Linked DNA regions of Homo sapiens. The protein of the gene in region 2 purifies or fractionates together with the protein of the main gene of each other region. This does not show direct contact. Each region holds a gene or a part of one and is shown on either strand. Other genes may lie near its edges.

The links. The genes of interacting proteins can lie anywhere in the genome.
Region 1: the proteins of SRSF10 (region 2) and DNTTIP2 purify together in Homo sapiens (affinity purification with mass spectrometry, with the first as the bait; one large-scale study listed by BioGRID). This does not show direct contact.

The regions. Positions count from the first base shown.
Region 1 is NC_000001.11:93,865,784-93,869,206, reverse strand, and holds the end of DNTTIP2 (deoxynucleotidyltransferase terminal-interacting protein 2), read left to right. Parts: 3' UTR 1-2,923; downstream 2,924-3,423. UniProt on the Homo sapiens protein: Regulates the transcriptional activity of DNTT and ESR1. May function as a chromatin remodeling protein. Part of the small subunit (SSU) processome, first precursor of the small eukaryotic ribosomal subunit.
Region 2 is NC_000001.11:23,977,528-23,981,824, reverse strand, and holds the start of SRSF10 (serine/arginine-rich splicing factor 10), read left to right. Parts: upstream 1-1,497; 5' UTR 1,498-1,569; coding exon 1,570-1,634; intron 1,635-3,007; coding exon 3,008-3,112; exon of another isoform or gene 3,113-3,172; intron 3,173-3,196; exon of another isoform or gene 3,197-3,914; intron 3,915-4,297. UniProt on the Homo sapiens protein: Splicing factor that in its dephosphorylated form acts as a general repressor of pre-mRNA splicing. Seems to interfere with the U1 snRNP 5'-splice recognition of SNRNP70. Required for splicing repression in M-phase cells and after heat shock.

The DNA of each region.
Region 1 (3,423 bases), about 70 Mb from region 2:
TGGCCAGGGTTTCTTCGAAGTTAACCCAGCTTACCTCTTCTCCAGTGGTACAGTATGCACCCTGGCTAAGCTGGTTTCTGGCACCCAAGGAGTGTTGGTCATTTCTGTTGATACTTGGTGAGTTGTAGCTTCCTTTATGTTACTATTCACTTTACCTCTATTTTTCCAGCATACTGCTTCCTTGAGATATCAGCAAATATGAAATCTTTTTTTTTTTTAATAATAGTTTTGGGGTACATGTGTAGAACATGCAGGTTACATAGGTATACACGTGCCATGGTGGTTTGCTGCACCCATCAACCTATCTACATTAGGTATTTCTCCTAGTGCTATCCCTCCCCTAGTCCCCCACCCACAACAGGCCCCAGTGTGTGATGTTCCCCTCCCTGTGTCCATGTGTTCTCATTGTTTACCTCCCACTTACGAGTAAGAACATGCAGTGTTTGGTTTTCTGTTCTTGTGTTAGTTTTCTGTTCTTGCTGAGATGATTTCCAGCTTCAGCCATGTCCCTGCAAAGGACATGAACTCATGCTTTTTTATGGCCACATAGTATTCCATGGTGTATATGTGCCACATTTTCTTTATCCAGTCTATCATTCATGGGCATTTGGGTTGGTTCCAAGTCTTTTCTATTGTGAACAGTGCCACAGTAAACATACTTGTGTATGTGTCTTTATAGTAGAATGATTTATAATCCTTTGGGTATATACCCAGTAATGGGATTGCTGGGTCAAATGGTATTTCTGGTCCTAGATCCTTGCGGAATCACCACACTGTCTTCCACAATGGTTGAACTAGTTTACACTCCCACCAACAGTGTAAAAGTGTTCCTAGTTCTCCATATCCTCTCCAGCATCTGTTGTTTCCTGACTTTTTAATGATTGCCATTCTAACTGGCAATGAGATGGTATCTCATTGTGGTTTTGATTTGCATTTCTCTAATGAGCAGTGATAATGAGCGTTTTTTCATGTTTGTTGGCTGCATAAATGTCTTCTTTTGAGAAGTGTCTGTTCATATCCTTCACCCACTTTTTGATGGGGTTTTTTCTTGTAAATTTGTTTAAGTTCTTTGTAGATTCTGGATATTAGCCCTTTGTCAGATGGATAGATTACAGAAATTTTCTCCCATTCTGTAGATTGCCTGTGCACTCTGATAATAGTTTCTTTTGCTGTGCAGAAACTCTTTAGTTTAATTAGATCCCACTTGTCAATTTTGCCTTTTGTTGCCATTGCTTTTGGTGTTTTAGTCATGCAGTCTGCCCATACCTATGTCCAAAATCTCATATTTACTGCTTGGAGTCAAAAGCTAGTAATAGCAGAACTGACAATAACATTCATAGTTGGAGTTAGGGAAGCATCTATGTCTGTTCTCTTTTATTTTAAAAAAAAACTACTTTTGTTTCTGGAATACTATGTTTTGCCTTCTACTGGATAAAATAAGGACCCAGTATGAGAGAATTGTATCCTTTAGTGCTTCTGGCCTTCTACAAATACCTGGATATTTAAATAATGGATGAAGTTATGTTTTGCTTTTTAATAAGCAAGTCTTTTGAGAAACAGGTTTTACTGACTTTGGCCTGTGTCACTAAACTCAGTTCACCTACTGGAACTTTTTTTTTTTTTTTTGAGACGTCTCACTCCATCACCCAGGTTGGAGTGCAGTGGTGCCATCTCAGCTCACTGCAACCTCCGCCTCCCAAGTTCAAGCGATTATCATACCTCAGCCTGCCAAGTAGCTGGGACTACTGGGCATGCCATTATGCCCAGCTAACTTTTGTATTTTTAGTAGAGATGGGGTTTTGCCATCCTTACCTCAAGTGATCCACCCGCCTCGGCCTCCCAAAGTGCTGGGATTACAGGTGTGAGCCACCATGCCCAGCCAACTGGAACTATTTGAAGGCTTTATACCAGAAAAGTATAAAGAATCCAAAGGGCTGCCACAGTCAGGTGTGCTGGTGAAAGAGACCTTCAAGATACCCCTGAGAAGATCTTGAAAGATTTCGAAAAGAATGCTGTATTTATACACCATCTGGCTCCAAGATGCTTTTTTTTTTTTTTTTTTTGAGAGACGGACTCTCGCTCTGTCGCCCAGGCTGGAGTGTAGTGGCATGATCTTGGTTCACTGCAACCTCCGCCTCCCGGGTTCAAGCAATTCTGCCTCAGCCTCCCAAGTACCTGGGATTAACAGGCACCCACCACCACACCCGGCTAATTTTTGTATTTTTAGTAGAGACGGGGTTTCACCATGTTGGCCAGGCTGGTCTTGAACTTCTGACCTCAGGTGATCCACCGGCCTCAGCCTCCCAAAGTGCTGGGATTACAGGCAGGAGCCACCACGTCTGGCCCAAAATGTTCTTAAAACAAAGTAGATGCTGTAAGACTACAGTTGATAAAGTTGGGCTCTGGGCTAGGTTCTTAGCATCCAACACAATCAGTTCTGTGTTCAGTGTTCTGCTGTATGATAAACCAACTGCTCTAGAGAAACACCAATATTCCTCTTCTGAAACCTGGGAAAATGTCTTTTTTGGGTCCCATAACTAGATGTCACAAAAGGAGTGGGGAGTGGGGAGGCTATATAAAAAAGTTCAACAAAACCTTAGTAACTGGTATACATTAATAGGATCCCATTCTTAGAAACAGCAAGTTAAAGAAAATACCATAATGGGAAAAAAAAGTTAACATTTCTGAGAGATGTACCAGGTATTCAGTCTCTCAGGCAGTGACAACTTGTTCAGAATAATTACCTACAATAGATCCCAAACCATTGAAAAATGCCTAATTGTTTACTTAATGGAATTTGTACTTACTATTTAATTAGATGAATATCTTTATTGAAAGTTTTCAGTAAGGGTTGCAACAAAAAGGGCTTTCTAATTAACCAATTCCCCAAGCATCTGTCTAATTAAAATGTAAAGTGCAATTATTCTCATTGTCACATAGTTTTTGAAGTGAAGAAAAATCTTCCAAGAAGTAGGATCAATACCATGACCTATAATTAAATGTCATAAGCGGATCAGTGTTCTATCACTGGAGAAATGAGACATCTCCAATGAACTATGAAATGTAAAATTAGGTAAGTTTGTGCATAGAGGATTTCTAGGAGGACATACAAGACATACCTTCAAATCAAGATGGCCCTGTAGTTCCTCAAGCTCAATTTTATCAATTCCAGTTACCCTCATTTCCAGTTCACTTTAGCGAATCACTATCATGGCCTTAGACTCGTTGTTTGAGAATTCAGTGGTCAAGATTCTTAACTCAGACTACCCCAATTTGTATCTTGTTATCTGTTATCCTGTTAGTCTTCCCTTCAGTTGTCTCCAACTTAGCCTTGGCTGCAATTTGGAATTACCTATGGTGGCTTCAAAATGCTGATGCCTGGGTCTCACCCCCCAAACATTGTGAAATCATGATTTCAAGCCT
Region 2 (4,297 bases):
TTGTCTTAGATGCTGATTGACACAAAAATAATGCCTTTATGACTTTTTATTAAATAAAAGTTCATTTAATTTAACAGTACTTGAGTCCCTGCTACCTGCTTGGCACTGTGCCACACGCTGGAGGCATTCCAACTGAAGTCTCTCATCTCCAGAAGTTGACTCTTATCGAGCAGGAAATGGCTCTCAAAAGGGCCTCCAAAATCAAAACCATACTAAAGATTATTTGCTATTTTCATGCTCATTCTCTTACAAACGTGGAGTTTTCCAGAGGGTACATGATGTGTGATAAAGGGTAGTGGAGTGTGTCAAAGTTTTCTCTATTTTTTTTTTTTTTCTTTTTTGAGACGGAGTCTCACCCTGTCGCCCAGGCTGGAATGCAGTGGTGCAATCTCGGCTCACTGCAACCTCTGCCTCCCGAGTTCAAGCGATTCTTCTGCCCCAGCCTCCCAAGTAGCTGGGATTACAGGCGCGCGCCACTACGCCTGGCTAATTTTTGTATTTTTAGTAGAGATGGGGTTTCACTGTGTTGGTCAGGCTGGTCTCAAACTCTTGACCTCGTGATCTGCCCGCCTCGGCCTCCCAAAGTACAGGGAGGGATTACAGGCGTGAGCCACCGAGCCCAGCCGAAGTTTCCTCTATTTTAAGTTCTCATTAACTATTTATTAATAGGTATAACCCACACTTTTTTTAAAAAAAGCTCTTTGGAATCTTCCGTAATACACAAGAATATAAAGGCGTTCTGAGACCAAAAAGTTTGAGAACTGCTGCAATACAGGTCCGATGCATACCCAGGAAGCCGTCAGCAACAAAGAATACACTACAAATGACCACAGTCATGAACCTACAGTGTGAGGTTTGGTCCCACCCAGGTTGGGAGCCAAATGCGTGACTAAGTGGAGATGGCTAGGGTGTGGGTGAGGGGCAAAGGCAGGCTGAAAACACTGGAGAGACAGGCCCAGCTCTGCGCAAGGGCACACACCTCCTTCCTTTACACACTCAATACAAGCTGTAAATCCTTCTTTCGCAGGTCAGGGCATAACCTGGACCAAACGGGAAATTTAAGGCAAAATAAAAGCAGGACATTAACTTGGACCAACCGGGAAATTTAAGGCAGCCTCTCTGAACTAAATAGTTTAAAAATCTGTCCATTTAGTAGTAACCGCAAAGTTTGGCCTAGAGACTAAAACATCTGCTTCCTGATTTGGGGGTGGAGATGAAGTGGAGTGTAAGGTAGAAAACGGCGGGAAATGAAGACCTAAAGAAAGAAAGAACAGGCTTGGGGGAGGGTAAGAGGCACCGCAAGAAGCCAACGAATGACACCGACGCTGAGGCGCGTGCGCCAGCCCTCCGCATGCGCAGGCGGACGCCTGGTGTTCTCGCGGGAAAGAACCGTTGCGCCCGACTTTGCGCGGAGGTAGGAGGGGGAAGTGGAGGCGGGAGTGAAGTCTCGCGAGAAGAGTCGGTTGCCGTAGCAGAGCCCTCTAGCTGTGTGTGTCTGAGGCTCGGCCGCCTGAGCCGCGGACGGTTTGCTGAGCCCGTTAGTGCGCCCGGCCGAGACACGCCGCCGCCATGTCCCGCTACCTGCGTCCCCCCAACACGTCTCTGTTCGTCAGGAACGTGGCCGACGACACCAGGTAGGTACAAGGCAGGTACTCCGGGCCTAGGCGGGGAGGCCGCAGGCGCCTGGAGAGGACCCTGGTGGTGGCGGCACTGGGCCGGGGGAGGGGACGGAGTGAAGATGGCGGGTCCCGCGCCCGCTTTGGCGCCGAACTAGGCCGCGCAGCGGGCCTCAGCCGCCGCGTGGGAGCGAGGGCGGCGCCTCTGCCTTCGCCGGGCCGCGTGGCGGGGTTTTTCGGTCCCCCTCCCCCTCCGCAGTTTGCAGCCCCTTTCTCCCTGCTTCCTGCCGGCGCGAGCAGCCCCCCGCCGCGGCCTTTCCGCGACCCGACGGCCGCCCCCCATTGATTTGAAGTTCACATTCTTCGAGGTTCACGCCCCCTTGGCCCAGAGATTTTTTTTTTTCCCCAGCCAAAAAATAGTGAGATGAAATAACGGGATCGAGGGAGAGGAATGTTGCTACCATTTATCTTTGTTGTTGTTGCCGTTGTTAATATTTGGGGGTTTTAATCAGTTGGAGGTGTTTGGAGAAAGGGAGCGTTGAGATTTGGGGAGTTAGATTTTTCCAGTTAAATGTTGCGAGTAGTTTTTCTTATTTCCTGGAAATTCTGGTCACCCTTTGAAAAGGGAGGTTTGGGAAGCGTCAGTCATTAGGACGTTGACAGCTAAGTTAGATTAATTCAGACGTACCTTAAATAGGCTTTGTTCTCACCATTCCCTTGTTTCGAGTTGCCTTCAGATTATTTTGGAAGAGTTCTTACTACAAGATGAGGCTTTTTATTTCACAAATAATGAATCTACACACAGAAAATAAGTGGTTTGGGTTTTTGGTGTTTCGTGGGGGTTTTTTGCTAGCTTTGTGATTTGCTTTTGTCTTAAATTTAAGAAGGAAAGAAAGCAATAATTCTTTCCATAAATAATTCTTTCCATAATTTCTAATAGTTACGTTAGCATCTAGAGAAATTTTCTCTTTACGTCATCTTGACACTTAACTATTTAAGAAGTTCGATATTTGTGACTTTTTCAGACCATATTTATCTACTGTTAAGTGTGTAAATCTGTCGCTAAAATTGGGGAGTAAAAATAAGTGCTTGGTATTTTTCAGAGTGCTAGAGTCGATTTGATGCTGTAAAAGTAAAAAAAAAAAAAAAAACAAGGCTTATATACAACCTAATGCTGCTGTACCTTTTATGAAAAATGACGGCTGTAGATAAAAATAAGTTGTGGTCATTCCCTTGTACCATACATATGTCTGCTGTTGTCCTGTTAATGTAAACTGCATTTTTATCTTCCAAATTCTTGGATCCTAGCTTTCCTTCATCAAAAAGATATATTGCCTATACATCTTAAGGACTTGGACATAAAAATTTGAGGTCTTTTTATGATGTTTTAGGTCTGAAGACTTGCGGCGTGAATTTGGTCGTTATGGTCCTATAGTTGATGTGTATGTTCCACTTGATTTCTACACTCGCCGTCCAAGAGGATTTGCTTATGTTCAATATCCTTTCTTCAGATGGCTGATTAGTGAGGGGTGTTGAAGTTTGAAATTCAAGTTTATGTAAGTGGTAACATCTAAAAAGTAGTTCTTTTTGTCCTCTAATAAATGTCTGTCTTCAAATTTTTGAAAATTAATTCTGACTCACACATTGCTCTCGTTATTAAAGTTAATCCAAAAATGGTAAAATATATAAATTCCCATTCATGCTTCTGAAACTCATATCGATGATTATATATGTGATTTAAATTTGAATGCACTCTGGTTGCTACTACCTTTAATGTAAGTCCTTTAAAAGTTAATATGTTCTTGTGCTTAGCAATTAAAATTTGGTATTCTTGTTTGTTAATTTGAATCACTTGATCAAAAACAAATTGTATAACAATGAGGTAAACTTCTTTAATATTGTCCCCTAATTTGCTGTCCTCTGTTGTTACCTCAGAGAATGTAAAGCTGTACAGTTATGGCGACCCCAAAGAGAAAGCATGAAAGAACCTTTAGAGTAGAGTTCAACACTTAAGGCAAGTAGACAAGCCAAAGACCTCTTAAGGATCAGGCTTGAAGAGAAGGGAGAGTTTGGGAAAAGAAAAAATAAAGAAAAGCTGGAAGAAGGACAAGCCTAATGGGAGACAAAGCCTCGCTTTATCTACAAAAGGGGGAAAAGGTTGTTTTTCAAAGTTAAAGATAAAGCCATCTGTCATATTTGGCCAAGCATCTCATGACAAGTCCTTCTGACAAGCACTTAAAGAGTTAAAGGTCAAGATGAAGTTGAATGATGGCCAAGATTAAAGGAGTCATACCTGATGTATCCTACAGAATAACTATTTTTCTTTTTTTTTTTTTTAATGTTTTGTAAGCAGTTAATTTTCAAAATTATTCTGGTTTGGTCTAGTGACAAAACCTGTAACTTGATTTATGTGGGCCTTTGATGTTGTGATTGTGGTCTTGTGTAAATGCACTCTCTCTTATGAAGTTAAAGTGTAACAGGATGTATATTCTTAAGATTAAATTCAGCATATTTTGGTTTTGGACCAGGTGGTCAGATGCCACGGAGTAGCAGGCAGTGCTCTTTGGAGTAGCGTGGGGTTCTGGGGTTAAGCCACAGAGCCCTGCTTAAAGGAGAGACAGGTGCATGCACTGGGGACTACTTAGAAACAGCTCTGGTGGTCTTGTAGGGTCAGAACCACT